Linked DNA regions of Homo sapiens: all the other regions are linked to region 3. Evidence: fine-mapped expression QTL. A gene starts in region 3. Each other region holds a variant in brackets. All regions are shown on one strand. Distances are between the middles of the regions. Region 1 overlaps SEMA5B (semaphorin 5B). Region 2 overlaps PARP14 (poly(ADP-ribose) polymerase family member 14). Region 3 holds the start of SLC49A4 (solute carrier family 49 member 4). Region 4 holds the start of LINC02035 (long intergenic non-protein coding RNA 2035). Region 5 holds the start of LOC124906363 (small nucleolar RNA U13).

Region 1 (6,315 bases), 110 kb after region 3:
GAAGAATATGGTGTCTTTGAAGTGCTCTCTCTGTATTGTCTCTGTTTTCACTGAGTTCCACTTTATCTGTTTCTTTGTTTTGGTGTCTCTTTCATGTTGGACCTTTTCCTCTGATGTCTGTGATCCTTATGTGCCGATTCGTACCACCCTCCTTGTGAGGGAGCACATTCTGAGATTCCTCACCTCTGGGCCAGGGCTGGTTACCAAACAGCCTTTGCTTACTATGCCACCTCATCTGCAAGCAGTGTGGATGCACTAAAAACTAACTGCAAGCTCTGTGTACAGGGTACTGTTTGTAAACGAGTGTACTTTGCTCTAGGACTATATAGCATGATGACCAGCTAGCTTATTTCAGAATTTGTAGGGTTAGTTCATTTCTTCAAAAGATCATCTTCTAGTCTTCTGCCTGGGGAGGAGGAGGAAGAAAAAGGGGAGGAGGAAAAAGAGGAGGGGGAGGAAAAAGAGGAGGGGGAGGAAAAGCCTGGCTGTCAGAGTCTTGGAGTTAGCTTAGGAAAGGCAATGGCTGAATCCCACTGACAACCAGAGTCTGTCCAGACAACTCCTTACCACACACCCACCTCTGGGCCTGGTGTCCCCAAGTCCAAGGTTTCTCTGGTTCATTGTCTTAAGGGAACATACTTATTGCCCCCTGTGGAGACAGCGGAGTGGTGACGACTGTAACGGTGGAGAGTGAAGACAATTTGAAAGTCTAGCTGAAGCTTACACACAGATGTACAACCAATCCCTCTCTTTTCAGTCCCCACCTTAACCCCACCTTTCTCATTCCTGGTTTCTCTGGTATCCGGTTCTTTCTGAAATCACTTGGATGCTTAAGTTTGGCCCACATCCATTCTACTGGATGCCTGGTTCCTCCATCTGCTTTCTGTCTTCATGGATCATGACTTGGGGTTATACATACATCCTAGATTTACTGAAAATAGTGACAGAACTTTTGTTTTTTATTCTGTTTTGGGGGTGATTCTGAGAGAAAGAGGGATAAATGTCTTTATACCACCATTTAAAATCCCTAAGTCTCTGCCTTGGTTTTTAGTATAACTGTGATTATCTTTTTGGTTTTCTGTATCCTCTAAATTTTCTGCAATGAATACATATGACTTTAATAAGAAAATGCATACACACTCAAAAAGTCATTTATACACAAAGGGATGCAAAAAAGCCTGGAGCACCCACTCCTGCATCTTCCTTACTCCTGCTGAGCCAGCTGGGACAAGGAAGAATCCCTTGCCCTTCACGCCTCAGCTCCCTGACATCTGTCAGAGATCCCCAGACCCTCCTTGTCAGGGAGCACATCCTGGGGTTCCTCACCTCTGGGCCAGGGTTGTTTACTTAATAGCCCTTACCAACTTTGCCAGCTCATCTGCGAGCAGTGTGGATCCTTCATGCATTCTGAATGGTCATGCCTCCAAAGCCACATTTTTGCAAAGAGAATTCAGTGTGTGTGTGTGTGTGTGTGTGTGTGTGTGTGTTGAACTGGCACTCAAAGATTGACATTCTGCTGATGCCACTGCAGTCAACATCGGGTGGGCATTGCCCGGGAAGTCTCCATGACCACTTCCTACAGACCTACCTGGTCCCTCCACTTGAACACACCATGAGGGGCCCTTCTGAAGCAGGCACCCTGGGCCCTGGAACACTCTTAAACTTCAATGACCCTCTGGTCCAAGGGGGCTCTGAGACCCCAGGATCTAAAATGCCCTGCTAGCTGGGTGCAGTGGCTCACGCCTATAATCCCAACACTTTGGTAGGCTGAGGGGGACAGATTGCTTGAGTCCAGGAGTTCGAGACCAACCTGGGCAACATGGTGAAACCTCACCTCTCAAAAAAAAAAAAAAAATATCAAGCATGGTGGCACACGCCTGTAGTCCCAGCTACTCAGAAGGCTGAGGTAGGAGGATCGCTTCAGCCTGGGAGGCAGAGGTTACAGTAAGCTGAGATTGCACCACTGTGCTCCAATCGGGGAGACAGAGCAAGAATCTGTCTCAAAAATAAATATATAAAAATAAATAAATAAATAAATAAATAAATAAAATGCCCTGTAGGCCCCCATGAGCTCGAGACACATGGGGCTAAGAGGAACCAGTCAGGAATCCCAAGTACTCACATACTTCCTGAGCTCTCGGATGGGGCTCCACTGTGCTGATGACACTGCCATTCCAGTTGTCCCAGGTAAGCAGGAAAGATTTCAGGCATGTTCTTTCCTCCTCCTTGCTTCCAGGAACCTTTAAGCTTCAAGCACTCCTCCCTCCACTCCCCAAGAGCTTCCGCCTCCTCTACCACTAGGATGGCAGGTTTTACAGCCTGACCTACAATTAGATTCTGCTGGGAATCCTAGGAGAATTGATCCAGCCAATTAAGTCAGGAAATTGCTCTCTAAATTTAACATGTCCGTCAATCTCATCCAAAATGGCAGCATTGATTTGGTGGGCTGAGGCTTTGAGGTTATCTTTATTTAATCCAGCAAAAACTATATTAGGCTTCTCCCACCTCACAGATTTGCCTGTTTCTCAAATTTGATTTTATTAAACTCAGCAGTATAAATATCTCATAAAATAATTCTCATCAACACTCTCCCGCTGGACTCACACCCTGGAGCTGTTGCCTGAAGAGATGCTAAAGGAGCAGGCAGAACTCTCGCCTGTTTTGTCGCCTTTGGTGTACCTTATGTCCCCACTTGTGAATCTGCTTATCCCCAACATCTTTTCCAAAAAGGGTGTAGGACAATGTATGTGTACACTGTATGTGTATTTCCATTCTACAAATGGAAAGATATCATCTATTAAAGATAAG[G/T]CTACTTGGGGCATTTCCCCCGCCTTGAGAGACCATCTGCCACCCTGGTGCATTGCTCAGATTGCCTAGACTATGCAAGAGGAGCCCACGCACAGATGCACAGAGACATTTGGAGACTGGATATCATCTTTAATTAATAATGCCACAGCCCAATGTCTTTTTTGTTGCTGTAGCAAATTGTGATTGTGTGTGCGTGTGTGAGTGTGTGTGTGTGTGTGTTCCTGAACAGATGAAGGGCCAGCAGAGACTCCCAAGCAGGTCTCAGCCAACAACTCTGTTGAGCAGCAACTGGAAGATAGTCTCCATAGAGGCACAGAGGCCAGACTTCTGCCTCCTATGGCATTGATCCTCTCTCCTGGGCCACCTTTCGTGCATTGAGGGCAAGGCTGAGGCCTGTACCAGCCCAGATTAAAGGACTTCTAAGCACAGGTCAGCCTCCAGTTCCCAGTACTCACTGCCTCTGACCAGAGGGATGCCCTGGGTAGAGTATAGACTTCCAGGCAGAGGTGGATAACCTGCGCTGGCCTTGGTCCCATGTCATACTGGGGCAGCACCACAATGGCCCAGCCCTGGCAGAAAATCCAGAGCTACTGGAGCCACTTGATTGATTACTTTCAGAGATAATCAGGATGTAGCAAAGGCCTTTTTTGGGGCCAGCTGGAGAAGGCCAGACTCAGCTTGTGGGGGCCACAGGAAGTTGTCTCCAACCCAAACTTAAAAGCCTGCCCTCTTGCCATCTCCATTCTCCAATTCCTCAAATGCCCAGTAGGTCCACAGCCCAGGCATGGCAGCATAGTGTCAGCGTGACAGTGGGTTGGAAGATAACCATGAGAGACCTGGGCTGAACTGGACCTGCGGCCATATGTCAGCCTGAAACCAGCCCTTTCCCCCATGGTCAATGCCAGCCAGAGCTCTCTGAAGCCGGATGGGACCCCCCACAGGCAAGGCAGCAAGTTCTTGGCCTAGTGCAGAGGGAGAAAACCAAACTGGCTCCACTGTCCCATCTCCATCTGCTCTGTGCCTTATGAAGGCAAGAAGCCCAAGTCCCCAGGACGGCGGTATCAGCTGTTGGGGAAGCACCGTTGTCCAGGTGAGGCCTCGGGCCGGAAGCTGTGTTTGTTCAGGGGGCTTGGGTAGTAAGTAGTCGTGTACACATTGGTCTGCTGCAATGGGTAGAAGTTGGCTCTGTCATCAGGGATCAAGTTATTCTTGTTCAGGGTCTGTGGGTGGAAGAAGGAACCAGAGAAAGGGGTGAGGGAACACACAGGGGAAGGGAACAGGCCAGAGCAAGGAGTCCAGAAGCCAGCCGTGCAAGAACACTCAGACTGCGGATCCAGTGCTCTGTTCACACCACCACTGCCCAGTTCCACCCAGCTGAGGGCCAGAACCCCTGCACTCTTCACCCTGCCCTCCTACCCTGCCCTCTGCTTCTACAAGAAGGCTCCCGGCCGGGCGCGGTGGCTCACGCCTGTAATCCCAGCACTTTGGGAGGCCGAGGCGGGCGGATCACGAGGTCAGGAGATCGAGACCATCCCGGCTAAAAACGGTGAAACCCCGTCTCTACTAAAAATACAAAAAATTAGCCGGGCGTAGTGGCGGGCGCCTGTAGTCCCAGCTACTTGGGAGGCTGAGGCAGGAGAATGGCGTGAACCCGGGAGGCAGAGCTTGCAATGAGCCGAGATCCCACCACTGCACTCCAGCCTGGGCGACAGAGTGAGACTCCGTCTCAAAAAAAAAAAAAAAAAAGAAGGCTCCCACCTTGAATTCCATGGGTGTGTACTTTTCATTCTTCGGGGTGCCTCCGCCCTTGTAGTGCAAATGGTTGGGGGTGGCAGGATGGACCAGTGTGGACTCCTGGGACTGACGCTGGCAGTGCTGGCAAGACAGGTACACTGCTAGGGTCAGGAGCCCAGAGCCCAAGAAGCAGGAGATGCCCGTGGCCACCAAGTGGATGAGATTGAACCCTAGGGGAAGAGAGGCAGGTAGTAAGATGAGGGCCACTGTGAAGAGGACAGACTCCTGCCTGCCTCCCTGGGAGCAGAAACAGCAACAGGAGGCTCTGAGGCATCCTGGAAAGGGCTCTGAGGCCACAGCCAAAGGAAACAGGGAGGCTGGGGAGGCTGTCACTGGGGACCTCTTTCACAAGGTACCCTGTGGCTCAAGTCAGAGGTGGCAACCAGAGGGTCTAGAGTCAGATGACTCTTCCTTGGGTACAGACTGATGATGGCCTCCTAGCTGGGGGGGGCATGGAGGGAACTGCCCAGACCACCCTACACACCATCTCAAAGCAGTGGGGACCCCAACAAAGCTTGGCTGTCTGGAGCAGGATGTGGAAAGAGTCCAGACTTTGGAGTGGGGTGCCGGAGGGCTGGGAGGACCGCAGCATGAGGTAGGTCCGGTTTCTTTTACCTGCACAGTCGGTGGCCTCCTCCATGCTGGAGGCTGGCAGGATGACTGCAGGAAGACCAGTGGACAGGGTGTCAGGGGCGGAGACGAGAGGAGGGGGGCCCTGCAGGGTAGGCGTAAGCCTGGGAGGACCTCTAGGTCAACGCTCAGACGTAGGACTAGGTAGGCGTGGGGGCCTTCATTCCCCTCCCTCTCTCCTCAGACCCCACCTCTGAGAAGGGCTAGCCCATCCACAGGATGAGGAGGGCCCAAACCCCAAATGTGTGCATGGAGGCAAATATGGGAGTTTTCTTTCGGCATCTCCTTCCCCCCACTTCCATGTTTCATCCTGTGCCCCCTGCTCCCCACCAGGACACAAGCTTCAGAAGGAGAAGGAAGTTGGGAGTGCAGGCTGGGAAGGGTTGCTGCGCAGGTGCTGGCAGGGGTACCTACCGGGAATCTCGCTGTAGGGGCAGGGGCGGCTCTGGCTGCTGTTTCCAGCACAGGCGCTGGACCCTGGGAGGAGCTCCTCACAGTGCCGGCTTCGGCTCTGGGCTCCGTCGTCAGTGCACTTACTCCACTCAGACCAGGGCGACCAGCCTTCTGGGGATTGTGGGTAGGATGAGGTTAACTGCCCAGGGACCCCCTGGTGGGGATCAGAGGGCTCCATGTCGCTTCCCAGCCCTGGCGGGATGTGCCTCATACCTGGGCAGGCCTGTGTGGCACATAGTGCCTCCTCCGTGTGCAGCCCGAGACAGATGTCCTCACCTGGGGAGGGTGCGGGGCTGGTGCAGGAACGGGTGCGTTGATAGTGACCCCCACCACAGGAAGCTGAGCATGGAGACCATGAGGTCCAGCAGGACCAAGCACCCCGAACTGCAAGGGGACGGGGTGTGTGAGGGGCTGTAGGGGCAGCCAGGGCCCAAGACGGTCTTCCATCCCATACCAGCCCAGACCACTCTGCCCTGAGCCACAGTGACCTCAACATCCACCCGATCCACCCGCCACCCAACAGTCCACTGTTAGGGAGTGCCCCCACTCCATGCGGCAGGTGAGGGAAACGCAGGAAGCAGCAGAGACACCCGGAGGGAGAGAGACCGACTCCACCTCCAATCAAGCTTC
Region 2 (6,315 bases), 90 kb before region 3:
CCCCGCTGGAGCGGATATGAGGCCCCGAGGTGTGTGTACCTATTAAGGAGAGCTGTGCAACTCAGTCTCTGTCTAGCCGAAAAATACAAGTACCGATCCATAGCCATCCCAGCTATTAGTTCTGGAGTCTTTGGCTTTCCCTTAGGCCGATGCGTGGAGACCATTGTTTCTGCCATCAAGGAAAACTTCCAATTCAAGAAGGATGGACACTGCTTGAAAGAAATCTACCTTGTGGATGTATCTGAGAAGACTGTTGAGGCCTTTGCAGAAGCTGTGAAAACTGTATTTAAAGCCACCCTGCCAGATACAGCTGCCCCGCCAGGTTTACCACCAGCAGCAGCGGGGCCTGGGAAAACATCATGGGAAAAAGGAAGCCTGGTGTCCCCGGGAGGCCTGCAGATGCTGTTGGTGAAAGAGGGTGTGCAGAATGCTAAGGTGAGTGTCGCTTTTACAGAACACCACCAGGGCACTGTGACTTTACTTAGTCAGTGGCTCTCTCATGGAGGGCTGAAGAAAGATAAGGACCAAGGTGAGAATCAAGGGAGAGAATCCCATGCCTTCCACCCCTGCCTTGAAACAATTTTCCTTAGATAATTGGGCTTCTTACCAAATCATTTACTAATAGAGATCGGCCAATTATTTGTGAGAACTGAAAGGGTATAGAGGTCAGATTGCTAGATTTCCAGTAGATGTAAAACTCCATAATATCACACGTTTAGACAGTTCTCTATACCTTACACCTGCCGTGTTTTGGTAAATCTAAGACTAATTTCCTAATTTACTGACAGCAGATACAGAACAATCAGAGCATAGGGTATGCAGAGGACAGGAATCTTGTCAATGATGCTGAGCAAGAGTGAGCTTGGGGCCAGAGTCTAAGGGGCCATCAGCGCCCAACACCAGTGAGGAAGTGAAAAGTGGACCTGAGGAAGTTACAGGTGCCAGGCAATATGTGGGGACAATTCTTGTAGGCTGCAGGGGCATGGCAGGGGTTGGAGGGAGGCTAATATGTTTCTTTTTCTTTTTATTTTTTTGAGGCAGGGTCTCTCTCTGTCATCCAGGCTGGAGTGCAGTGGCACCATCTCGGCTCACTGCAACCTCCGCCCCCTGGGTTCAAGTGATTCTCCCACCTCAGCCTCCCGAGTAGCTGGGACTACAGGTGCATGCCACCACGCCTGGCTAATTTTTGTATTTTTTTTGGTAGAGATGGGGTTTCACCATGTTGGCCAGGCTGGTCTTGAACTCCTGACCTCGGGTGATCCGCCTGCTTCAGCCTCCCAAAGTGCTGGGATTAGAGGCGTGAGCCATCATGTCCAGCCAGCACTGTGCTGTTTTTGACATGCATGTTCTCATTCACTGCCATGCGGCAGATTCTAGGATTATTATTATTCTCACTTTACAGATGAGGGAGTGAGACTTAAAGGGGTTAGGTAATTTGCCCACATCCCCCAACTAGCAAATGGTAGAGCCAGGATTGGAATTTGTTCAGGCTCTTAACCATTGCACTCTTTCAAAATGTTAAAAATAATGTTGTGTCTCATTTTAAAAAATTAAATAAAAACTCTTTGGACCAAGCATCAGTTATGGGAATGAATTTCATTCCTTGTCTCTTTTGACACCAAATATCAAGACATTCTTTCCCAGCTAGGCATGGTGGCTCATACCTGTAGTCCTTACTACTCGGAATGCTGAGGTGGGAGGATCACTTGAACCCTAGGAGTTTGAGGCTGCAGTGAACTATGATCATGCCACTGCCCTCCAGCCTGGGTGGACAGAGCAAGACCCTCTCTCTTAAAAAAAAAAAAAAAAACAAAAAAAAAAAACAAAAAACAAAAAACAGTCATAGTTTGCTTTCCTTTCACTCCCATAGATGCTTAGCTTCCATGGCTGTAATAACTGCTCTGCATTACTCCTTAGTGACCCAGGCAGGGCAGCTTTGAAAATCACTTGGTTACATTCCCTCTCCTCTGTTCTCTTGACCTCTCTAATCTAGCCCGATTAATCTGCTCACATTCACTGATGAAAAAGCTTCCGGGGCTGCTCCCTTTCTGTCAGGGAGTCCAGATGTCTTGGCACTCGAGGTGGGCCCCCTAGTTTACCCCCAGTGTAACATTTCTAGCCTGGAGCATACCATTTTGCTGCAGAAGCTCTCTCAGATCAAATTAATCTGTTCACAGCTCACAACCCACCATGCCTATGTTCATGCTGCTCCCTGTCTTGCTCTGCCTGCTGAAATTCTTCCCATTTCTCAAACCCCACATTGCCCATGGTATCTTCACTAGTTACTGAAACAGCTTTCTCTGGACTCCTTCAGTGATGCCATACCATTCATAGATTACTTTTTGACTGCTCTCTTTTTTTCCTAAGTGTCACTTCAATAAGTATTTAGTCACACTTTGTCTTATGTTGATATTTCAATCACTGAAACCGTAGTCATCTTAGTTGTCTCCAATTGTGCCAAGCCCAGTGCCTCAAATATAGTAATCATTGATGAATGCTTTTTGTTAAAATTTGAAACAAATTTTTGGTTTTGTCTTTAAGACCGATGTTGTTGTCAACTCCGTTCCCTTGGATCTCGTGCTTAGTAGAGGGCCTCTTTCTAAGTCCCTCTTGGAAAAAGCTGGACCAGAGCTCCAGGAGGAATTGGACACAGTTGGACAAGGGGTGGCTGTCAGCATGGGCACAGTGCTCAAAACCAGCAGCTGGAATCTGGACTGTCGCTATGTGCTTCACGTGGTAGCTCCGGAGTGGAGAAATGGTAGCACATCTTCACTCAAGGTTGGGCCTGGTTTTGAATTCTCCATGAAGTTGGGTAGCCCTTTGGGTTCTCCTTTTAGTAGCATATTAATTGGACATAGATTGGGCCTTGTCTGTTTCTCTTCCATAATAATCACTCTTTTGGCAGATTCCATCATGTGGCCATTTCTTTCAGCTGTAGCTGACTTCTCCTGAGGACTAGTTAATACTATAAATGGATTATTGTGCTCAATAATTATTGGAGCTCAGGGAAGGGTTACTGAAGATAATATTATTGCTTGCTTAGTGAAGAAAGCCAGAGGAGGGTGTGAAGAATGGAAGAGAATGAAGGAAAAGAACAGTAGTTGCTTTGCTTCTTTCCTTCATTGTGAATGTGTTTAAGTCTCTCGCATTCTCTTTTCCTTTTCCTTGCCTTCTCCTGTATTTTTCTTTCCTCTTCTGATTGCCCTTAATCAGTGTTGACAGCAAAAAGGAGTATTCAAGTTCACAAAGTTGCTAAATTCTTGTCCTTTTTGTTCTAACTCCCATTTCTAGACAAGATGTATAAGGATGTGCTTTGTGCGTTTCAGATAATGGAAGACATAATCAGAGAATGTATGGAGATCACTGAGAGCTTGTCCTTAAAATCAATTGCATTTCCAGCAATAGGAACAGGAAACTTGGGATTTCCTAAAAACATATTCGCTGAATTAATCATTTCAGAGGTGTTCAAATTTAGTAGCAAGAATCAGCTGAAAACTTTACAAGAGGTTCACTTTCTGCTGCACCCGAGTGATCATGAAAATATTCAGGTACAGTGCCACTAATTTCTGATTATTTTGGCAACTGAGACCTAGTGTTTTTTCAAATGTCTTTTTGGTCTAACAGGATACTTTTTTCATTCATTTCCCCATTCAGGAAAGTAAGAAGGTAGTTTATACTTGTAGTTGTAGTTGTAGCATGACAAATTTTAAGAAAAGTTACAGATGTAGAAAAAATTTAACTTCCTATTCAGGAAAATTTTGAACATATCCAAAAGTAGACATAATAGTATAATGCAGTCCCTTGTACCTATCACTGAACTTCAACAGTTATCAACCTATGGCCAATATGTTTCATCTCTATCTTCATCTATTTCCCTTCCTTCTATATT[C/A]TTTTGAAGCAAATCTCAGACATATCATTTTATCCATAAACAATTCAACATTTATTTTAAACAATAACAATTCTTTTTAAAAAAGTAACATAACCACAATATTGTATCACACCTAAAATAAATGGACAATAATTCCTTTAACCAATTATCAAATCAATTCTCAAATTTCTGACTATCTCATAAACGTTTTGTTTTTACAGCTTTGTGTTTGAATCAGAATCCAAATAAGGCCCACATATTGCAATGGAGTTGACTATAGGATTTCCCTCCATATGGACATAGAAATTTTAATACATAGTATAAAAGCACAGTCTGGCCTTATCAATAGGAAGATGTCAGAAGGTGTGGTTAGAATGGATTAGCACATTCCCATGTAAATAGGAGAGTTGGGACCAGAAACACCAGAACTATCATCAATCATGAGTTCATGATTCAGCTCACATCAGCTGTGGGAGAGCCACTGGACTCAGCATTATGGCAGCACAACAGGCTTTTAAGCCATTATCCCTGCACTCCGAGTCTTTACTTAATCAAATAAAGTAGATGACATTCAGTGTTTGAAAAGCTCCCAAGGTACTGCAAAAATTGATCAAACAGATTAAGATCAGCAACCCAAGAGATACCTGTGGATCATTGGACCATCTGAATTTTTAGGTAATGCTTCATTTTTCTGTGATGCTAGATACTACCTATAAGTTCTTTGGAAGCAAGTAAATCTGACCTGAATTCTGATCAGGCAGCCAAACCACCTGAGTAAAATATGTGGTCCATTTACTTGTCCCGTATAATTAGTTACTCTTCTGTGCAACAGAAGCTTTTAAAATAATTTCCCTATGACTTGCATTGTGCAAGGTGATGTGGATCGTGGAACAGGACGAATAGGAATAGCACATACTTTCCCTCCTATAAATCACAATTACTTTGGAGCTAAGATTTATATACACAAAATGAACTAAATGAGAGGCATGAAGTGCTGTTTTTGAATGCATGGGTGATTGAATACAGCATGAGTCCTGTGACACAGACCTGAACCTTCAAATATCACTCTTTTTCATGCAACCTCAGCATTCATTTTCTTTCCTGAAGACTGAGTATTTTTCAAATACTCTGTAAAAAGAATTAGTCTATACAGATGCCTTTAGTACCATTTGAAATTCTCTGTATGTGTCTGTTACACTTTTTCTCTTTAGACTTTTAAAGACAGTTAAACTTTGGTTACATTTGCACAAAAAAATCAGCAAAGCTTATCGAGATGTTTATAGATGGAGACTGTCACAGAGGATGCAAAGCAGCAGTCCTGTGATTTGAACATGGCCTCTAGATGTGCTTTATTTAGATTATTAAAAAAAAATTTCAATCAGTTGCTAACATTTAAAAATCAAAAATTTTACATAAAACTCTAGATATTCACTACAACCTAAAACTTCAAAACTTCTGGCACATTAAACATGGCTTCCTGCTTGGGACAGGAAGTTTTCCATGGCTGAGTGGCAGGTGTTCTCTAGTTCTCCATAGTCAAATCAGACCACCTTTACACATGTGCCTTACCTACCTGGCTCCTAGAAGCCTGTGAGTCTGAGATCTTTGCTCTACCCTCTCTCTGGTTCCTTCTCCCATTATTGCATCTATCTTTAGCCAAGATGTTACTTGTTTTTTTTCCAACAAAATTATCTGTTGCTTGTTTACAAGGAGGAAGAAAATGATGATTATGGAGGGTCACCAACAGGCAAAAAAAAAAAAAATGAAATTCACAGGTTTATTAACACTAGAATACATACACCAGCTACTTGCTCCAAAAATCATGACTCCTCAGCCCCTCCTCTTTTGGTACAAATAGGAAATTAAAAACGGAAGTGTTTGGGACCTTGTGATGGTCATTCTCTTAACATTGTAGTTTTTACAATTGGCAAGTTATTTGCTTTGACTGACCATTATGGTAATTCATGTTCATTGTAGAAACTTTGAACAATGCAAAATGCATAAATTCTTTAGTTGGATTTTATTCCAGCCTGCTTTTTTTTACATATGTACTTTTAAAAGTGGGATTGGCTCGGAGCGGTGGCTCATGCCTGTAATCCCAGCACCTTGGGCAGCCAAGGCAGGCAGATCACCTGAGGTCAGGAGAACAGCCTGGCTAACATGGTGAAACCCCGTCTCTACTAAAAATACAAAAATTACCTCCCAAGTAGGCTGAAGCAGGAGAATCACTTGAACCTGGGAGGCGGAGTTTGCAATGAACCAAGATTGTGCCACTACACTCCAGCCTGGGTGACAGAATGAGACTCCATCTCAAATAAATAAATAAATAAATAAATAAATAAATAAATAAAGGATTGTGATTATAAATTATTTTATTTAATATCCTTCGCTTTTATTTTCTATTTCACTAAATCTTCTTTGAGGCTGGGCACAGTGGCTCACACCTT
Region 3 (6,315 bases):
TAGAGAATGAAACAGACATAGGTCCTGCCCTCAAGGTACTTATGATCTAATGGAAAAAACAAATAATAAATAATTACAGATTGTAGTAAGTAAAATGACAGAAGCAGGATGCTGTATTCCAGAACATCTAGGGTTGGGGGGTGCAAGAGAAATCACAGTGACTGTTTTAAATAGTTTGATCTGGTAAGGTCTCAGGTGGTGACATACTTTAAAAGCTAAAGATTAAGCCAGCTATGTGAAAAGCCAAAGGGGAGGTGAGTGACAAGAGATCCTGCTAAAGACATCAGCAGAGCCCAGACCAAGGATTATTACAGGCCACGGTTAAGAATCTGGGTTTTATTCTAACTTCTAAGGGCAATGTAATTCGCTGAAGAATTTTACATAAGGAAGAGTCACTTTTTGCTGCAGAGTGGAGAAGGGATTAGAGGGGCACAGAATAGAAAACAGAGACACAAGTCAGTCAGGAAGATACAGTAGTAGTTGAGGTGAGAAAATGTGGATGATTTGAAGTACGGTCTGATAGTGAAAGGAAAAAAGTAGACAGATTAGATGCAGAATTGACCTGACTTGCAAAGTCATTACCTGAAATTAAGAAAGAGGCAGAGAGAGGTTATAGAGTTTGGGAATTTGTCATTGGAGAACGTTAGCAGGCTCACTAGAGAAACAGAGGATCAGAGGGATCTCAAGCCCATACTGACTGAATATTCAAGAGTTTGGCCATTTTCACTTTATACGGTCATCAGTTTGTGCAGGACTTTTTCCAGCAAAGTTCAGGCCCACGGGTGCAGGTACAAAGAGGGCAAAAGGTTGACTTCATCCAGAGTAAGAGTTTTGTCAGAAAAAAGTGCAGGAAGGGACAAGAGAATTTTTCAAAGGAACGACATACATTCTGGATAAGGGGGTGCAGTGGATAGAAAATGGAAAGATCAATGCAATGGAGGTATAGATGAAGGTCAAGAATTGTCTCCCTGGTAGAAAGTGGTCAGATAGTAGGAGGCTATAATTTGTTTCTTCTGCTTGGAATGGGCATCTCCCCCTTCAGCAAACTGTTTGACCCCTAAATACATCCATCCTTTTCTGCTCCCTGACTTCCTGAACCCCAGCACCACTCCCTGAGTTTGTCACCATCTCATCCAATCAGAAAGGCCCACCTCAGCGGATCACAAGGTCAAGAGAGCGAGACCATCCTGGCCAACATGGTGAAACCCCGTCTCTACTAAAAATACAAAAATTAGCTGGGCGTGGTGGCACGCTTGTAGTCCCAGCTGCTTGGGACGCTGAGGCAGAAGAATTGCTTGAACCTGGGAGGTGGAGGTTGCAGTGAGCCAAAATCGCGCCACTGCACTCCAGCCTGGTGACAGAGCGAGACTCCGTCTCAAAAAAAGAAAAAAAAAAAAAGAGAGAAAAGAAAAAGAAAGGCCGACCTCAAACTATTCGCTCCTTGAAGCATTTATGTTCTCCCCACTGAGATCCCTCCTCCTAACAACCCTCACAGAGTGTACTACTGGTAGAATAGTTCAGGTGACCACATAGTAAGTCATTCTTTTTCCTTTCTAGGCTCCTTTGGAAAAGGTATTGTTATAAATATTCAAAAGTCTCTGGATCCTGCGACAGTATTCAGAACACAGCCCTGCACGGTGCAATCATTCAATAAATAATAACAGGGATCTCAGGCTCATGGGCCTCCAAACCTCATCCCCACTTGCTAAACCAGGGTTCACTGAAATAGAATAAAAGCGCATAATCCCTGTTCACAAAAGTCTCAGATAACTTCCATTAATCTCAAAGGTTGCCTTCAATTTCACAAATTTAATTTTAATCCCCTCTAAACGTTCAAAACACCTCTATTTAGCTAATGATGGGCAAATATAAAACAAAACAAAACAAAAATAACACCCCATGCGTGAAACAGCACTCGTAGGCTACCCTACGACGATCAAAAATCTGGATGCCACAATTCGAGAAATGCCACGCTCACTAGAAAATATAGATTTTTCTTCATAGTCTAATGCAAGGCCAGAGAGACCTGGGTTGGGGCTAAGGCAAACGGCCCCACGAGGGGTGCCACGAGAGTCAACTGGCATTGGGTTTGTACTCAGGGTCGGACCTCAGCCTGGCACCTACCTTCCTCCCCTCCAGCCCCAGCCGCAACGATCACAGGAGTGGTCGCCTCGGAGCCTGCTGCCATGGCTACCGCAAGGCGGGTTCTGCCGGAACCCAAGGCGGAGCGGAGCTGGGGTGGGGTCAGAGTAGGGGCCAAACTCCGAGACCCGAAGCTGCACCACAGGAAGGAGCCCCGGCGACTCCCGCCCGGCTCCTACGGAAACGCCGGCTCTCACGTGGAGGTCACGTGACGGATGCTGGGCGGGACCACGCAGCTTTGTTTTGATACCCCGGGTGTGGAAATACAAACACGTGGTCTGAGTTGTGGCGCTTTTTACCTAACCCGGACCTTAGCGTTCTTTATTGTAGTCTTAGCTTCGTTTCTGTTTCTCCTTTTCTAGTCAGATCCTTCCTTTCCACCTCGGCTTTTCTCCACCCTAAAGGATTGGAGTTTTAGGGGAAGGTTTGCCGCTTAGTGGGGCTCCGGCGGTGGGATGGGTCTCTGCCGTGAGCTTTCGCGAGCCGCTCTTGGCAGCCTGGAATGCGAGGCTAGCTCACGCTTCTCTTACACCTCTCTTGCCCTTCTGGTGGTAACCTGACTCCTTCTGATTTTAGTGGCTGCCGGGAAATACGAACCTCGGGCAAAGAATCCTGTGATTGCGTTCCCTGTGACTCATTTCCCGATCCAGACAAGCCAAATTGCTTGACTTTAGGTTTTCAAGGACACTAATCCACAGCTGTCAGGCTTCTGAATTTGTATACCAAAATAAACAAACAGCTGTGTGAAGAGATCAACAACCACCTTTCTTCTCGTTTACCCTGTGGTCAAATCATAATCACTGGAGATGGATCTTTGGGGCAAAAATCTTCCAACTTTACTGGACATACCTTTATTGCTCGCCTATTGGCAGGCGAAATGGGTAAAGTTTACATATATATGAATGAAATTGGCTAGTTTGGAATCTCCTCTTTGGATATGTAAGACAAAAAAGTAACAAAAATAGGTAGTACTTATTGCACGTAAGAAATGATTTTTATGAGATAATCCCCTGGGACCAACTACGCTTAAACTTTATCCTTCGCCTATAATTTCTGAAGTTACTAACTCAACAAAAATGAGAATAAGCCCAAAATAGAAGCAAGCATCAGGTTAACTGACGTCACTTAACAGGTCACTGAGTTGTTTATTAGGCACAAGATTTAACTTGGACACTTCCTCCAAACACCCCAGGGTTCCTTGCCCAACCTCCTCGAATACAGCCTCTCTGGGAGTTTCCCTCTCCCCGACTCAGCCGCGCTGGTCCCTGCCTTTTCAGCGCTACCTGCCCTCCGTCTGGGACCTGGCTCCTTTCCTCTCGCCGGTGTTTCCTCGCCACCCGCGGAGGGGAGGGCGGACCCCAGCCTCCTTGCCGCCTGCCCCGCCTCCCCGCCTCCCCGCCGGCCCGGCTCGGGCCGCGCAGGCGCACCAGGCGCGGTCCGGAGGCCGAGGGCGACCACAGCAGCCTCCGCCTCCTGCTGCTCAGGACTATTCTGCGCTGGGCTAGTCGGCGGTGACCCGGACTGCGCCCGGCAGTGGCTTCGCGGGCGACGCGTCGCCATGGGCTCTCGCTGGAGCAGCGAAGAGGAGAGGCAGCCGCTGCTGGGGCCCGGGCTCGGGCCTGGGCTGGGGGCCTCCTGGAGAAGCCGGGAGGCGGCGGCGGCGGCGCTGCCCGCGGCGGTCCCGGGTCCCGGGCGGGTATACGGGCGCCGCTGGCTGGTGCTGCTGCTCTTCTCGCTGCTGGCGTTCGTTCAGGGCCTGGTCTGGAACACCTGGGGTCCCATCCAGAACTCGGCGCGCCAGGCCTACGGCTTCTCCAGCTGGGACATCGCGCTGCTCGTGCTGTGGGGGCCCATCGGCTTCCTGCCCTGCTTCGCGTTCATGTGGCTCCTGGACAAGAGAGGTGAGGGGTCGCGGAGCGCCAGCCCGCGCTGTCTCTCCTCCGGGAGCAGGCGCCTGCCCGCGCTCCAGGCCTGCCAGCCGCCTCCCTTGGCCCCGGCATAGGGGTTGTGTGAGGTGATAGAGTGTTGCTAGCATTCCATTTCTGACTTAGGAACCCTCCGTCCCCAAAGCGACAAATATGGAAAGGCAACCTTGCAAATATTTATGTTTTTTATCAAGGCCCTTTATGCAACACCAGGGATTTAAGCGATCTCTAAACGTTCAAGTTTTTACACATTGTGAACATCAGAGCATCCCCGTGCACGTGCGGTGTATGTGTTTTACACCTGACAAAAATGACTGATGCTTTGACTTCAAAGGGATATGGGGATGTTGAGGATGAAAGGTCGGAAAATAGATTGACGGTGCCCATATGTAAGGAAATAATGAGTTCGTTTTGTGTAATAGATGACTCCAGCCCAGGAAGAGCTATTGGGAAACTCAGATCTGACACTTTGGTTTCTGGAAGGTGGTGCTCGGCAGCTTTAAAATGTGTGTATGTGACTAGATGGCTTTCTCAGTTGAGATTTGTGACTTTCAATTAAAGCTTGCAGATGAGTGAAGATGCTTGCTTAGAATGGTACCCTGGACATCTCACTTTACCACTTGCCAGTGTGATTCTCTGAGAAGAAAAAGCCATAGGGCTGAGAATCAAGGCATACTTACCACATAAGTATGGATAAATGATTAGTAGTGACAGTCTACCCTCAAGAGGCTGTTGTGCAAGATTTTATATTTATTAATTGAATAATGCCTGGGAGCTACTTTGTACAGTTTCTGTTCAACCTTTTATAAGTTTTGTTGCAATGAGTTCTTTAGTCAGATTTGGAAGGTTGTCTTAGTCCACTGGAGCTGCTATAACAAAATACCATAAACTGGGTAGTTCATAAACACAGAAATTTATTTCTCACAGTTCTGGAGGCTGGGAAGTCCAAGATGAAGGCTCAGGCAGAATCGGTGTCGGGTGAGGGCCTGCTTCCTACACAGTGGTCTCTTCACTATAACATAAGATGGAAGAAGGGGTTAGGGAATCCCTCTGAGGTCTGTTTTATACGGGCAGTAATCCTATTCACATGGGTTCCACCCTCATAACCTAATCACCTTCCAAAGGCTGCACCTTCTTATTCCATCATTTTGAGGGTTAAGATTTCAAAATGTGAATTTGAGGCCTGGCGCAGTGGCTCAAGTAATCCCAGCACGTTGGGAGGCTGGGGTGGGAGGATTGCTTGAGCTCAGGAGGTCGAAGCTGGAGTGAGCTGTGATGGCACCACTGCACTCTGCCCTGGTCAACAGGGCAAGACTCGTCTCAGAAAAATTAATACATAAACAAAATATGAATTTGAGGGGAACACATTCAGACCTCAGCAAAAGTCAAGTGTAGGTAGGTATAGAATTGCAATTGTCTGGCATGTAGTTAGCACTCAAAATTAGTTGGTTATTAAGAGAATAGAATAGCAGGGTGATGTTAGTAGTTATACTTCCTTCTCTCCTCCTTCACTGGAATTCCTTCATTGGAATCCATGTGAAAAAGACTAAGGAATAGTTGATTGTGAATTCCTTAATGATCAACAATATAATGTAGCTGCTAAAAAAGAAAGGACAGTTTAGGCATAGAAACATAGTGTCCAAAACAAGAAGCAAAATAGTTTGATAGGCTCTACATTAGTGTTTAGTTCTGAGCTTGATTCTGAGAAGGCCATTTGACAAACTGCAGAACTTTAAAGGTTCTGCGACAAGAATGATAAAGGGTATAAAAATCATGATGTGTAAAATGAAGGGAACTTGTGTGTATCACACTTCAAAAAGAAACTTGAGGCAAGATATAGACTATGTGAAGATCAAGTCAAAGAGGAATTCGACTTATGTGTTGTTCTAGGAGGAAGAACTAGACTGAGTCAAGTTACAAAGAAATGTAACTCAAAGCAATACAAGGAAGAACCTTCTAACAAAGATACCCAGCCCTGAATGGGTGTGTCTTGACTGCTGTAGAACTTCCAGCTAGAGCAAATACTTTTGCAGAGGATGTGTGCTAGATGCCGAAGAAGGGCTTCTCCTACCAAAGGGAGATTTTCTTTGGGTTATTGTTGTTTGCTTTTAAACTAAATATTGATTTTCTCTGGGTTTCTGCTGGGCTCAGTGGCTCATGTTTGTAATCTCAGCACTTTGGGAGGCTGAGGCGGGTGGGTCACTTGAGCCCAGGAGTTAGAGACCAGCCTGGGCAACATGGTGAAACT
Region 4 (6,315 bases), 93 kb after region 3:
ATCAATGTGTTAGCCATAAGTAATTCTTTTAAGTAATTTTTTTCATTTCTTTTAGAGTTTTGAAAATTACATGAGAAATACATGAGTGTATAACTATTATAAAATAGTACAGGAATAGAAAGTAAAGTCTACCTCCATACAAACATGCTGTTTAATCCATTCTCTCCAGAGGGTATCATCATTCATTCTTTCAGAAGAAACTTGTGTATGCATTTACATATCTATGTATAAAAACTCGGGGGGCATTTAAAATCGAGTCACCTAGGGATCTCTTTCTTGGACCATATTGGTATAAACTTTATGGGCAGAAGCAGAAGTTTCTGAGATCCTTATTTCTCTCCCAGATGAATCTGTCAGATGTAGCATATTGTGGTTAATGTAGGTGTTTCACAGACCTGCTTATGTACCATCAAGCTTTATCATATTCTAAAGTTCAAAAGTGAGTTCCAATATGCATTATTGAGTTGAGTTCCAATATGCACTATTGTGTTTTCTTACTGGAAATACAATTTCTGTTCTTAACACCATCAACTAAGCTCCCTGTACTGTGAGAAAAGAAAGTGAGTAACCGACCTATGAAATCCATATAGATTTCCTCCACAGGACTTTCTTGGCTTCCCTGTCTCTGCAGAGGCACACAATATTATAGAAAACAGAAGCCAAAAGAATAATCTTGTGCAATTTTTTTTTTTTTTTTTAGACAGGGTCTCACTTTGTCATTCAGGCTTGAGTGCCCTGGTGTGATCTCAGCCCACTGCAGCCTCAATCTTCCAGGCTCAAGCAAGCCTCCAGCCTCAGCCCCCCAAGTAGCTGGGACTACAGGTGTATACCACCATGCCAGCTAATTTTTTATATTTTTCGTAGAGATGGGGTTTCACCATGTTGCCCAGCCTGGCTTGTGCAATTTCGTTTTTTGAAAAAATAGCTAATGGAGATTCTGATAATTCTTATTGTTTCCTGGTCAACTTCTGTGTCTTTCCTAATTTTCAAGCTGTCAGTAGAAATGATGAACTGTAGCAGGCCAGAAGCTCAGCTTCATTTGGTCACTTTTTCCTTTCCTGTCTTCTTGCCCATCCAGCTTTCCCCTTTCTGATGGTGTCTTCTTATTTCTGACAATGCTTGGGAGCGAGCTGTGTGACACCCAGATTTTACGAGTTGCCAGCGGTGGAGAGGAGAGAGCCGGGCATGCAGATTCTTCATGGACCCTACTAGAGAGGACAGAGAAAAAGAGCACTGGTGTAGGAGCCCACGGGTCTGGCTCTTAACCCTGGCCTGGTGACTTCAGCTATTTGACCTTGAGCAAGTCACTTCATTTCTCCTTTAGCAACATCTCTAAAATGAGGGAGTGAGCAAAAATGTTCCCTTAGATTTCTTCTAATTCAGAAATACCAGTTGATTCTTATTTAAATATGAACATGACCAAAGCATGTGCAGTCTGTAAAGCTGGAGAGGTGCCCAGCACCTTGGTGTTTCCATTTGTGCGGTAGCCCCCCTCATGTGAGCCCTGTACGTGAACATATGAAATCTTATGCTGCATCCACATTCAATAAGAAGAAATTGCTTTTTCAGTGTCTGTGGGAGGAGATAAGCTGCAGGTGCTGTTTATTTTCCCAAAGGACTTTATATATGAAACACAGGGTTTATTAAATGTATCAAATGCAATAAGAGAAAAATCTGTCATCTGATGTTGAGATAGCATACTGGGAGCCAGGTCGGGGTACTGCATTTGCTCACCAGAATCAGATCAAACGAGATACGAGTCCTTTGGTTTGATTGGATTCATCATGAGGCAGCATGGGTTTGCACTTGTAGAAATCAAAACTGTTAGGTCAGGTAGTAAAGCCAATCCTTGAACTTACATCTTTAGTTAAGGCATCAAAGAATTGTAAGTTGCTTTGCAATGATGCCATCTCCACATGGTCAGATTCTTCCAGTAAACTGTGCAGATATTTTACAGAATAAGAGCTAAGTTTCAGCATGTCAAGGAATGATCTGTACTCAAGTGTTAGTAAACAAGGGTTTTTTTGTTTGTTTGTTTGTTTTGAGACAGTCTCTGTCATCCAGGCTGGAGTGCAGTGGCATGATCATAGCTCACTGTATCCTCAGACTACTGGGCTCAAGTGATCTTCCTGCCTCAGCCTCCTGCGTAGCTAAGACTACAAGCGCATGCCACCACCCCTGGCTAATTTTTTATTTTTTATGGAGAAGGGGTCTCACTATGTTCCCCCAAGCTGGTCTTGAACTCCTGGACTTAAGCAATCCTCCCACCTCAGCTTCCCAAAGAGTTGGGATTAAAGGCGTGAGCCCCCATGTCCGGCCAACAAGACTTCCTCGTGACTATAATGTGAGCATAATATTAATAGCTCTGAGAGAGAGAAGTGAACCAGAAGACCAACCTCAGTGTCAGGAAGTCTGGGCGTCTGTCTTCTGCATGGCTGAAGACATGGGGCTTTGGGCAAGTCATCTGTTCTCTTTGAACTTTGGCTTCCTCACTTCTGAAATAGGAGGGTCAGAGAAGATGTTTCTTTTTGCTGAAAAGTTTTACAGTTCTCTGATCTATACCCCTTGGTCACACACAACCAAAAAGTAGAAAACATGAGTGCAATACTTTTCCACCAGTACTCCCAGTTTATACATTATCTTCTCAAACCAATAAGGAACTTCTACAAGGCCCTGTTAGTGATGTGTTACAGGTGCCAGCATTAGGGAAACTTTCAGACTGTTATATCTATTCGTTCCTTCATCCATGTATACTATTCATTCTGTATGCAGAGTAATTTATATATGTACAATTACATGGCAGTGAAAGATAATCAGAAAAATGAA[G/GA]TTTTTTTTTTTTTTTTGAGATAGTTTTGAGACAGAGTCTTGCTCTGTTTCCCAGGCTGGAGTGCAGTGGTGTGATCTTGGCTCACTGCAACCTCCGCCTCCCGGGTTCAAGGGATTCTCGTGCCTCATCCTCCCGAGTAGCTGGGACTACAGACATGCGCCACCATACCCAGCTAATTTTTGTATTTTTAGTAGAGATGGGGTTTTGCCATGTTGGCCAGGCCATTCTCGAACTCCTGGCCTCAAGCGATCCTCCTGCCGGCTTCCCAAAGTACCGGGATTCCAGGCATGAGCCACCATGCCCAGTCAGAAGGTTTTTTTTTAAAAAACACACTCCTGAACTAACAATTACAAAGAGCTAGTGACAATTTCCCAAATAATTATGCATAACAGGAGCCCATATATTGTTCTCAAATCATAAACCATAACTGATTTTGAGGAAAAGACATTCTGTCCCACTGATATTCTTTTCATGAGTAAGATCTGGATCTGTCTGGAGGCACAGAATTAATTTTTGCATGAGGAATCCCAACCCTACCATCATTCCATGGCTGAGGAATTGGTTATTACTCCTATGGGAAATTGGGAATGTTGTTGGTACCCCAGCCTTCTCTTAAGACAAAATTTAACAAATGCATACATGCTAAGATGCTTATACTCATAAGGCTTTGTGGGTCTCCTTTCTAAGGGGAATTTGAATACTAACAAGAACAAAGGCTAAATACCAAAAGGGGGCTTTCTAATGGTAGAATTTGGGATATCAGGTAGCCACATAGAGCAGGGCTACTTTGGGGGCTGGAGACTGCAGAAACCCTTCAGTTTATACGTGTGAGTAAACCTAATCACACTTGATGTATTGCTAGTGAAGTCCCAGCCCCCTGAGCCTTTGCAGAAACCCAAAGAATGCTAAAAAGGGCAGGTTTTAGTTCCTGCCAATTATTTCATTTACTACAAATGCCCCGAGTTCCGAATTTACTTCCCTCCCCACCAGAAATATGTCATTTTGGAGGCTTGTGAAAATTAAGCATTAAGAAAATCCCGCCTCCATCCTAATACACTGCATCCACAAGTCCCAAACAAAATCACTTCCTTGGCCTACACACATAACTACCTGTTTCTGTTTAGGTCTGTGACTCAGAAAGTGCCTGGAAGAAGTCATGAGAGGGAGTCGATCCCATCTTACCTGCCATAGGAAGAATAGGGCCTGCTCAGTAGAGTTCAGTGTGTGTGTTGAAGGTGGTGGTTCTTAGTCCTTCCCTGAATTCACTAATTCGCATTGCACTCACTCTTCCTGATCAATGAGTTATTGCTGAGAAATCATTGTAGTAAGTAATACAGGTATCCCCAGTAAAGCCATCCCTCTCCTCCATACCTCCGCTGTCCCTTGGGTTTTGGCTCCAGGATCCTTGCCCCATGTCCCAAAGAATCCCTACCTTGGGCCTCCCTCCTCCTCTTTTGTCAATTGCACTTGACCTTTTCAGGAAAAAGAAATCAATTGATACCTTAGTCCTAATGTTTGACCCTTTTCTATCTCAGAATAGAGAAGTCCCTGTATTTGTTCTTTTTTTACTCAAGTTTAATATAGACCACCTAGGCACAGAAGCTCCGTGCTATATTCTGTTGCCTGTAATTGTCCTTCCATCTAATTGGGAAAAGGTTACTCTATTGAACCATCTGCTGATTCCCTTACCTTTTCACTCTTTTGTCAGTATTCCTTTACCAGTAAATTCTTGGTTATCTAGGTCCTGAAGTTTCATTCATGTTTTTTTTAAAAGCTTTAATTTTTCTTAGGAAAACTGTTTCTCTCATCTTAAAGCAGACTATGATCTTTTCTACTTTGTTATACAATCTGAACATAATGAACACTCTAAAGTCAGGCATGGATTTTATCATAAAAGCAGATCGTATTAAGATTTTTTTAAAAAAGAACCAGGATTGAGGAATCTGTAGCTAATAATTTAATAATTCACCAGCATGTTTTGGGCTCCCACTTCATGCTGGCCACTGGGCTAGGCACTGAGGGTGCAGAAGCAAACAAATCAGCCTCCTGGCCCTCAGATTTGCATTCCAGTGAGTCCATTCATAAAACCTAACTCAAAGCCAGCAACACCCCCAAAAGGGCTGTTGGAAGCTTTGTAGCTCATCTGTACAGCTGTCTTGATTCCTGTACGGGATCTTACTTTCTTGGGAAAATATGTTCTAAATCCTGTTTCCTTGGGCCATTAAAAATCCATGCTGTCCCTAATCAATATATAGTTATGTGTGACCTTCTTAGAATTAAAAAAATGCCGCTGGACAGCCTTTGAAGGGAAAGGCAGAGAAATCTGTTTTGATGGCTTGAAAATAAGTGAAAAGGTTTTTAGGGAAAGCTAACAAGCTTTCAAAGATTTCAGATCTGCCAGCATTCATTCATTAAGGCATGGGATTAGGCCAAAAGAGCCTCCTACCAAGGGAGAGACAGGAACCATGTAAGGAGATCTGTGAGACCGCAGTGGAAGAGTATTGAAATAGAAGCCAGACCTGTAGACGTATTTGTTAATATGTGTGCCAAGCCAAAGTACAGGAGGAGGCTTGGAGGCATGGAGTTGTGGTGGAAGCAGGTTCTGAAAAGCAGAACTCTGAAGCTGGCTCATTCTCACGAAGTCATCTGGCCCAGCCTCCCGCCTCCAAGCACATCCTGCCTGCAGAGGGTCTGGCTAGCTGCCTTTTCAGCTCTCGAGGGATAGAGATTCTACAACCTCCCTCTGTCATCAGTTCCAGAGCCACTCCCCTTTGCACTAGAAGTTCTTGCTTTCAAAGAATGAGGGTGTGAGGGAGGGAGGGGTCAAGAAACAGAGTGACAGGGGAAACAGGCAGAACAAGTCAGGGCAAAGGACCCCAGCATGAAGAGTTGTGGAGGTGGAGGTGGGGAAGCAGCCTCACATCTCACACTTCCTTCCTTCTCTTAAATGTGAGCAGCTGACTCCAAGCCTTGTGGAAACTCTAGAAGGTAGAACCAGCCATCTGGGGAAGCTGGCCTTACAGATGCCCCGTCTGGCATAGTGGAGGTTCCTGTGCTCTGAGAACGCAGTGTGAATCTAGACATCCACTGCAGCCTGGGAAGAGCTGTGTTTTCTTCAAAAGTCTTTAACTTTCACAGTCACCCCTCTAAAGAAATGTTCTCTGATTGAAGGCATGCTTCTATTCCTACTTTATTGTGTTTCATGCATTCTGCCAGAGTAATTACTTTTCATACCAATTCTTGGATGCAGAGAAATCTCTGGTAGTCTAAGGGGATTTCGATCCAAGTAAAGCTACTATCTCCTATTCCATCCAGACTTTTCCGTCTGCCTCCATTCTCTCAGTCACATACCTAGAAGCAAGCCAGAAAGCCTGTCCAACCAAAATCACTCTCCAAAGCCCAAGCACTTTATTGTTCTCCCTGTCTGTTATCGAGCCAAGGTGTATTTGGCCTCATTTTATGCCATTAGTTGTCTGGCTTTCATGGCT
Region 5 (6,315 bases), 44 kb before region 3:
CCTCTGCCCGGCCAGCCGCCCCGTCCCGGAGGGAGGTGGGGGGGTCAGCCCCCCGCCCGGCCAGCCGCCCCGTCCGGGAGGTGAGGGGCGCCTCTGCCCAGCCGCCCCTACTGGGAAGTGAGGAGCCCCTGTGCCCGGCCGCCACCCCGTCTGGGAGGTGTACCCAACAGCTCATTGAGAACGGGCCATGATGACAATGGCGGTTTTGTGGAATAGAAAGGGGGGAACGGTGGGGAAAAGATTGAGAAATCGGATGGTTGCCGTGTCTGTGTAGAAAGAAGTAGACATGGGAAACTTTTCATTTTGTTCTGTACTAAGAAAAATTCTTCGGCCTTGGGATCCTGTTGATCTGTGACTTTACCCCCAACCCTGTGCTCTCTGAAACATGTGCTGTGTCCACTCAGGGTTAAATGGATTAAGGGTGGTGCAAGATGTGCTTTGTTAAACAGACGCTTGAAGGCAGCGTGCTCGTTGAGAGTCATCACCACTCCCTAATCTCAAGTACCCAGGGACACAAACACTGCGGAAGGCCGCAGGGTCCTCTGCCTAGGAAAACCAGAGACCTTTGTTCACTTGTTTATCTGCTGACCTTCCCTCCACTATTGTCCTATGACCCTGCCAAATCCCCCTCTGTGAGAAACACCCAAGAATGATCAATTAAAAAAAAAAAAAGAAAAAAAAATTAGATCTCAAACTTATACTATATCCTAGTGAAAAACTTCCAAATGGATAAGAGATCGAAATGCAAAAAACATGAAACAATCTAAATTCTAACACAAAACATTGGTGAATTCCTTTATGACCTGGAAAGGGTCATATGACCTTGGTTTCTAATTATGACTCAAAAACAATAAAGTTCAACAACAGATTTTGTTGGTGAGGCTGTGGAGGAAACAAGCACTTTCACATACTACTAATGGAAATGCAAAATGGCACAATCACAATGAAGCTGAATTTGGCAAAACCTAACAAAATTAAAGATACATTTACCCTATGACATGGCAAATCCATTGTTAAGATCTCCCCCAAAGACACACTTCAACAAATATAAAACAACATATGCACAAGGTTATTCAGTGGCATTATTTGTAATTACAAAAGACTGGAAACAACCCAAACATCTATCCTTAAAGGAACTAATGAACAGTAGAGCACCCATACAGTGAAGTACTAGACAGTGGTTGAAGAAAAATATGAATATTTCTCTGTACTATTATGTAGTGAAATTCAAGATATTATTGTTGAAAAAAGCAAGGTATGGAACACTATAGTTTATTACTTTCTATGGAATAAAGGATAGAAAATTTAAAATATATTTGAATAAGTATATAAATAAGTAAAGACATATTTATATGCTTATGCACTTTGTACATATAAGACTGTTTATATACTTATTTACATATATAAATATATCTATTCATTTACTTACTTTTATATATAGATATAGATATATATGTTTACAAGAAACACTGGAAATGATAAACCAGAAATGAATAAAAATGGATCTCTATAAAGGTTGGGAAAAATGGAGTGGATGGAACAGGGATGAAAGGCAGACTTCCCTGAGTATAACTTTTAACATAGTTTTGACAAGTTAAATGTTCTACATATTTAAAATATTAAATTAGATCAAAATTTTAAAAAGGTAAATCCTAAAATTGAAAACAAACTGAAACAAATGAACTTAACTAAATATCCAATTAGTAAAATAACCATAAATGAAAAGAATTCCTTCACAATGACTCCTGAATAAAGGACTTTGTATCTATCCCTCTTAGTGATAGATACAGTCTAATAATAAAAAGAATTGCAAAGAAATCTTAATTTTTACTTGCAAGCTTTATGGTTAGTAGTAATATTACTATTTGAATTTTGGAAACATAAATTTGACATCTTTTTCTTTTTTTGAGATGGAGTCTTGTTCTGTCACCAGGCTAGAGTGCAATGGCGCGATCTCAGCTCACTGCAACCTCCACCTCCTGGGTTCAAGTGACTCCCCTGCCTCAGCCTCCTGAGTAGCTGGAACTACAGGCATGCGCCACCATGCCCGGCTAATTTTTTGTATTTTTTTAGTAGAGAAGGGGTTTCACCATGTTGGCCAGGATGGTCTCAATCTCCTGACCATGTGATCTGCCCGCCTCGGCCTCCCAAAGTGCCGGGATTATAGGTGTGAGCCACTGCACCCGGCCAAATTTGATATCTTAAAAAATATATTGCTGGATACAGCAAACAAGTAAATATGTTACTGGTTTTCTTTCTTTTTTTTTTTTTTTGAGACAGAGACTCGCTCTGTTGCCAGGCCAGAGTGCAGTGACTTGATCTCGGCTCACTGCAACTTCTGTCTCCCTGGTTCAAGCGATTCTCCTGCCTCAGCCTCCCGAATAGCCGGGATTACAGGTGCGTGCCACTATGCCCAGCTAATTTTTGCATTTTTAGTAGAGATAGGGTTTCACCATGTTGGCCAGGATGGTCTCGATCTTTTGACCTCATGATCCACCCACCTCGGCCTCCCAAAGTGCTGGGATTACAGGCGTAAGCCACCGTGCCCGGCCTTATGTTACTGTTTTTAAGGACCCAGATTTTCAGTGTTAAGAGAAGAGATAAAAATACAGAAACAAATAAAAAATTCTATCATGTTAAACTTGAATTAGATACTTTTATAGTTCATAAGTCTGATGATTGGGTGTCATGCTCATGTGTGAGACATGCCTCCCTTAAGCCTTGTTATGACGTCAGCATATTACCTGTCTAGATATATTTTTTAAACACATGAATTAGAAATATAAATACATCAATATCTATCTATCTATCTATCTATCTATCTATCTATCTAATCTATCTATCTATCTCACATTCTAGCTACATCACTGAAAGAGCCTAGAAACACTGACACCCAGGAGCAATGAACAGATTTAGAGCTGAGATCTCAGTTTCTAAATGCCATTTCCTACAAAAAGAACTGTGGCTACCTGGAGAAATGATTGACTTCCAAGTGTGGGGCACTAAAGGAGAAAGGGTATCCTGGGATATCTTCCTGTGCCAGAAAGCCAGGATACACTCAAAGTCTAATTAACGGGGACATATCAAAAGGGCACAGGCCAGCTTGAAGTTTCACTAAAATGACAGATAAGACCCAAATTTAAAATTATCTTGTCAAGCTGGAATGCTCAACCAAACCAATATGATGAAAATTAACAGGGATGACTGTGAAATACTGGATTTAGAATTAAAATCAGCTTTATAGGTACAGGATAGGATTCAACCTGCCTGACAGCAGATCATGTGAAAAAAAATCACAGATATTTTAAAGTTGAATATGAAACTAAAGTGAGATGAGATTACTT[A/T]AAAAACTAACCCAATATTACAAGCAGCACTGGAGATATTTAGGATCGAGATCATGTGGGGTAGAAATCTTATACTCTACCAAATAAGGCCTACTGATATTCAGTTTTAGGCACTATATATTAAGAGAACTATTCTTGACATAATAGCTCTCCCTCCTCCTCATAGCAATTTCTACTTTTTAAACACTTCCCATATGCCACGCACTATATTAGATGCTTTTACAATGTGTTGTCCAATTACTCTACTGAGGTGGGTTCAATTATAATCCTCATTTTACAAGAAAATGGAGGCTTGAAGAGATTAAGTAATTATCTATGTTAGACAGCTAACAAAGGTAACCTGTATCTTAAAGTTGCCTGATTCCAAAGTCTATGGCCAGAATGGTAAAAAGTCTGGAAAAAGGAAAAAATCACCCATAAAAACACCCCATTAAAGAAAGTAAGAGGTTTTGAGCATGGAAGAAGAAAAGATTATGGAAAAACTTGGAGGTATTTTCAAATATTTTAAAAAGATGACAGCTCTACTCTTTAACAACAAGCGAACTTCCTTGGGAGGTGAAGCACCTGTCAGGGCTATTGTAGATATGACTTTGGCATTGGGAGTGGAAGTTCTCCATGGATTCTACCTTGACATCTGCTGCAACTCCAGTTCAGCATGCTATAGGCGAAATTTCTGTGACGCTACTGATCTCCTGCCATACCTCTCACTTAAGCCTCAAGGGCTACAACTCTTCACTAAGCCCACACAACATAGCTTTCTGTAACAATATTCCTTCTGTTCCACTGATTCCAAAGCCATTCCTATTAGCAAAGGATAGGAAAAACTAGACTAGGGAGAGGATACGGCTGTCAAACAGAGCAGAAAGATGCAATCCAGGCTTCAGGTCAAGGAGAGCAGAGATGCAGTCAGGGCCTCTGGTTAAAGAGAGGCAGCTGCAATTAAGGCCCCAGTTGAAGAGACAGACTTGAGCATAACAAGCAGCTATTCTAATTGTCAAATAGAGCAGGCAACCAGGATTAAGCTTAACACATCAGAGGGAAAGGCTTCTGGCAGAAATGAAATGATAAAAACCTAGCACTGAAAGAAAGACTCCGCTTTGAGAATATGTAGAAGCCAAGACAGAATTCTGCAATTAGTAATGACCCTGAACCAAGAAGCAGGTATTTCCAGCCCAGATGGTGTGAAAGAGGAGCGGCAACAAGGGACACATATCGGCAAATCTGGCCAGGCCCAATACAATTTTCCTAACAACACTGGTCAAGGGAAAGGACCCTGCATGCCAGCATCAGGCGCATTCTGTGTCCTTAAAAGAAAGAGAGTGGCACACCACTAAAATTCCAATTTCCAACCTAAACATCCATTAACAGAAGACAGAATGCATACGTTATAGTGCACTGCAACAAAAAAATACTGAAGCATTGGTTAAAAAAAATTAATTACCCAGTTGTACAGCCAGACCTTATATATCTTTTAAAAGCATGATTTGCACTTACTTAAAAAAAAAAAAAAAACAACGAAAAAGTACCAGTTCAATCCATGAGTTTATACTGACAGTGACAGGATCAATGGATTCTACGTAATGCCACCAGTGTCTGGGAACAAAGAGAACCTGAAAACCAAACAAAGAATGGTTAGCACAAGAACAGGACGTTTCATTTTTATGTCAGAATCAGACCCTAATTGAGGCTGCTAGGAAAAAAAGGAATACAAATGAATTCACAATAATATTGCTGGAGAAAAGTAAAGTAAGAAAAAAAACCCCGCAAACCTTTTTTCCTTTTATTCCTTTTTTATTGACAAGTTCACATGTTCTACAAAGGATACTGCCAGCATCTCTATTCTCTTTAATCCTGGGCCTTCTTTGTCTGCACCTAAATCTTAGTACATGATTCTGAGATTCTAATTTTTCCTCCTTTCCGTCACAAAATAGTTGCGTGCATTCTGAGAAAGGGCATAGGTAAAACACATAGGACGTGGCTTCTGTTTTCTCACAGCTCAAAATCTAGCCAATGAGAAGATAAAGTATAGAAAGGTGGCATTATAGAAGTGGTAAATCAGGGGACAATGGTGTTTCAGAATTTCAGAGGTGGGTGAAACAGGCATGAACTAGGGAGGTCAGGGGCAACATGGATGGAAGAAGTGTGATTTGAACCCGGGCTAGGAGAGAATTTAGACACAGAAAGAATGAGGACATGCCAGGAAGGATAAGAGGTACAGGTGAGGGAGGTAGGACTACAGAAGATAGCAAGTAGGTCAGTCTTACTATCACAGAGGGAATAATGGGAGATAAGGTAGGGGAATTAGTTTAGGGACAGCGGACTTCAGAATCTAGATTTTATCTGGTAGGCACTAGGAGTTGTTGAGAAATTCTAAGTAGGGGGATGGTTAAAATAGTGGTATCGAGAGAGTCTGAGAAGGACAGGAGATACTTGCAAAGGTCCACTTATTAAACGTTAAGATATAAATAGGAAGGTATAATAAACAAAAGCAATGGGCAGAGTCAAGAAGGATGGCATCTATCCAGACTCAGTATGAGATTTCCTATTAAGAGCAGAGTAGATGGAAATGATGTGAAGCTTTTGGGCTTCACATTAGGAAACTACTGGTATTTGCTGTGAACAAGGCAGGACTGGGAAATAGAAAGAGAGATCCTTTCAGGAAAACTGGAAACTATAAAAGGCCACTTGATAGTCATTAGTAGGTTATGCATGTCCTATCAGAGTAAAGTTTCAGTAAAGTGGTGACAGAAAGAGCTGGGTTTGAGTGGATTAAAGAATGGATAGGATGTAAGGAAAACTGATACAATAGGCAAAACCAATCACTCAAATTTGGCTATTAAACACAGAAGAGAAAATGAATTGGCAACCACTTCACACTCTCTGGAATGGCTGTAAAAATAATGATAAAAAAGCAAAACAAGTGTTGGGAAAGATAAAAAGAAATTGGAACCCTCATACAATGCTGGTGGGA

The links. PIP is the estimated chance that this variant, and not a neighbour inherited with it, causes the effect.
Region 1: its variant is fine-mapped to the expression of SLC49A4 in whole blood (TOPMed, PIP above 0.99).
Region 2: its variant is fine-mapped to the expression of SLC49A4 in whole blood (INTERVAL, PIP above 0.99).
Region 4: its variant is fine-mapped to the expression of SLC49A4 in whole blood (INTERVAL, PIP above 0.99).
Region 5: its variant is fine-mapped to the expression of SLC49A4 in whole blood (INTERVAL, PIP above 0.99).

The regions. Positions count from the first base shown.
Region 1 is chr3:122,906,274-122,912,588 of GRCh38, forward strand. SEMA5B (semaphorin 5B) reads right to left here. Exons shown (of 23, transcript NM_001031702.4): 19 at 5,899-6,069; 20 at 5,647-5,796; 21 at 5,218-5,262; 22 at 4,567-4,772; 23 at 2,809-4,028. The coding sequence ends at 3,870. Among named protein-coding and RNA genes, the nearest start is that of LINC02035, 23 kb to the left of the region's middle. The variant G/T (reference allele first, on the strand shown) is at 2,809.
Region 2 is chr3:122,701,201-122,707,515 of GRCh38, forward strand. It overlaps PARP14 (poly(ADP-ribose) polymerase family member 14), which reads left to right. Exons shown (of 17, transcript NM_017554.3): 6 at 1-435; 7 at 2,542-2,778; 8 at 3,327-3,548. Among named protein-coding and RNA genes, the nearest start is that of PARP14, 24 kb to the left of the region's middle. RefSeq lists an enhancer at 1-390. The variant C/A (reference allele first, on the strand shown) is at 3,890.
Region 3 is chr3:122,791,493-122,797,807 of GRCh38, forward strand. SLC49A4 (solute carrier family 49 member 4) reads left to right here and starts at 3,577. Exons shown (of 9, transcript NM_032839.3): 1 at 3,577-4,043. The coding sequence starts at 3,701. HSPBAP1 (HSPB1 associated protein 1) reads right to left here and starts at 2,339. Exons shown (of 8, transcript NM_024610.6): 1 at 2,125-2,339. The coding sequence starts at 2,188. RefSeq lists a silencer at 3,414-3,903.
Region 4 is chr3:122,884,752-122,891,066 of GRCh38, forward strand. LINC02035 (long intergenic non-protein coding RNA 2035) reads left to right here and starts at 1,762. Exons shown (of 1, transcript NR_024618.1): 1 at 1,762-6,315. RefSeq lists an enhancer at 5,669-5,758. The variant G/GA (reference allele first, on the strand shown) is at 2,827.
Region 5 is chr3:122,747,721-122,754,035 of GRCh38, forward strand. It overlaps HSPBAP1 (HSPB1 associated protein 1), which reads right to left. Exons shown (of 8, transcript NM_024610.6): 6 at 4,871-4,954. It overlaps LOC124906363 (small nucleolar RNA U13), which reads left to right and starts at 2,652; the gene lies at 2,652-2,755. The variant A/T (reference allele first, on the strand shown) is at 3,345.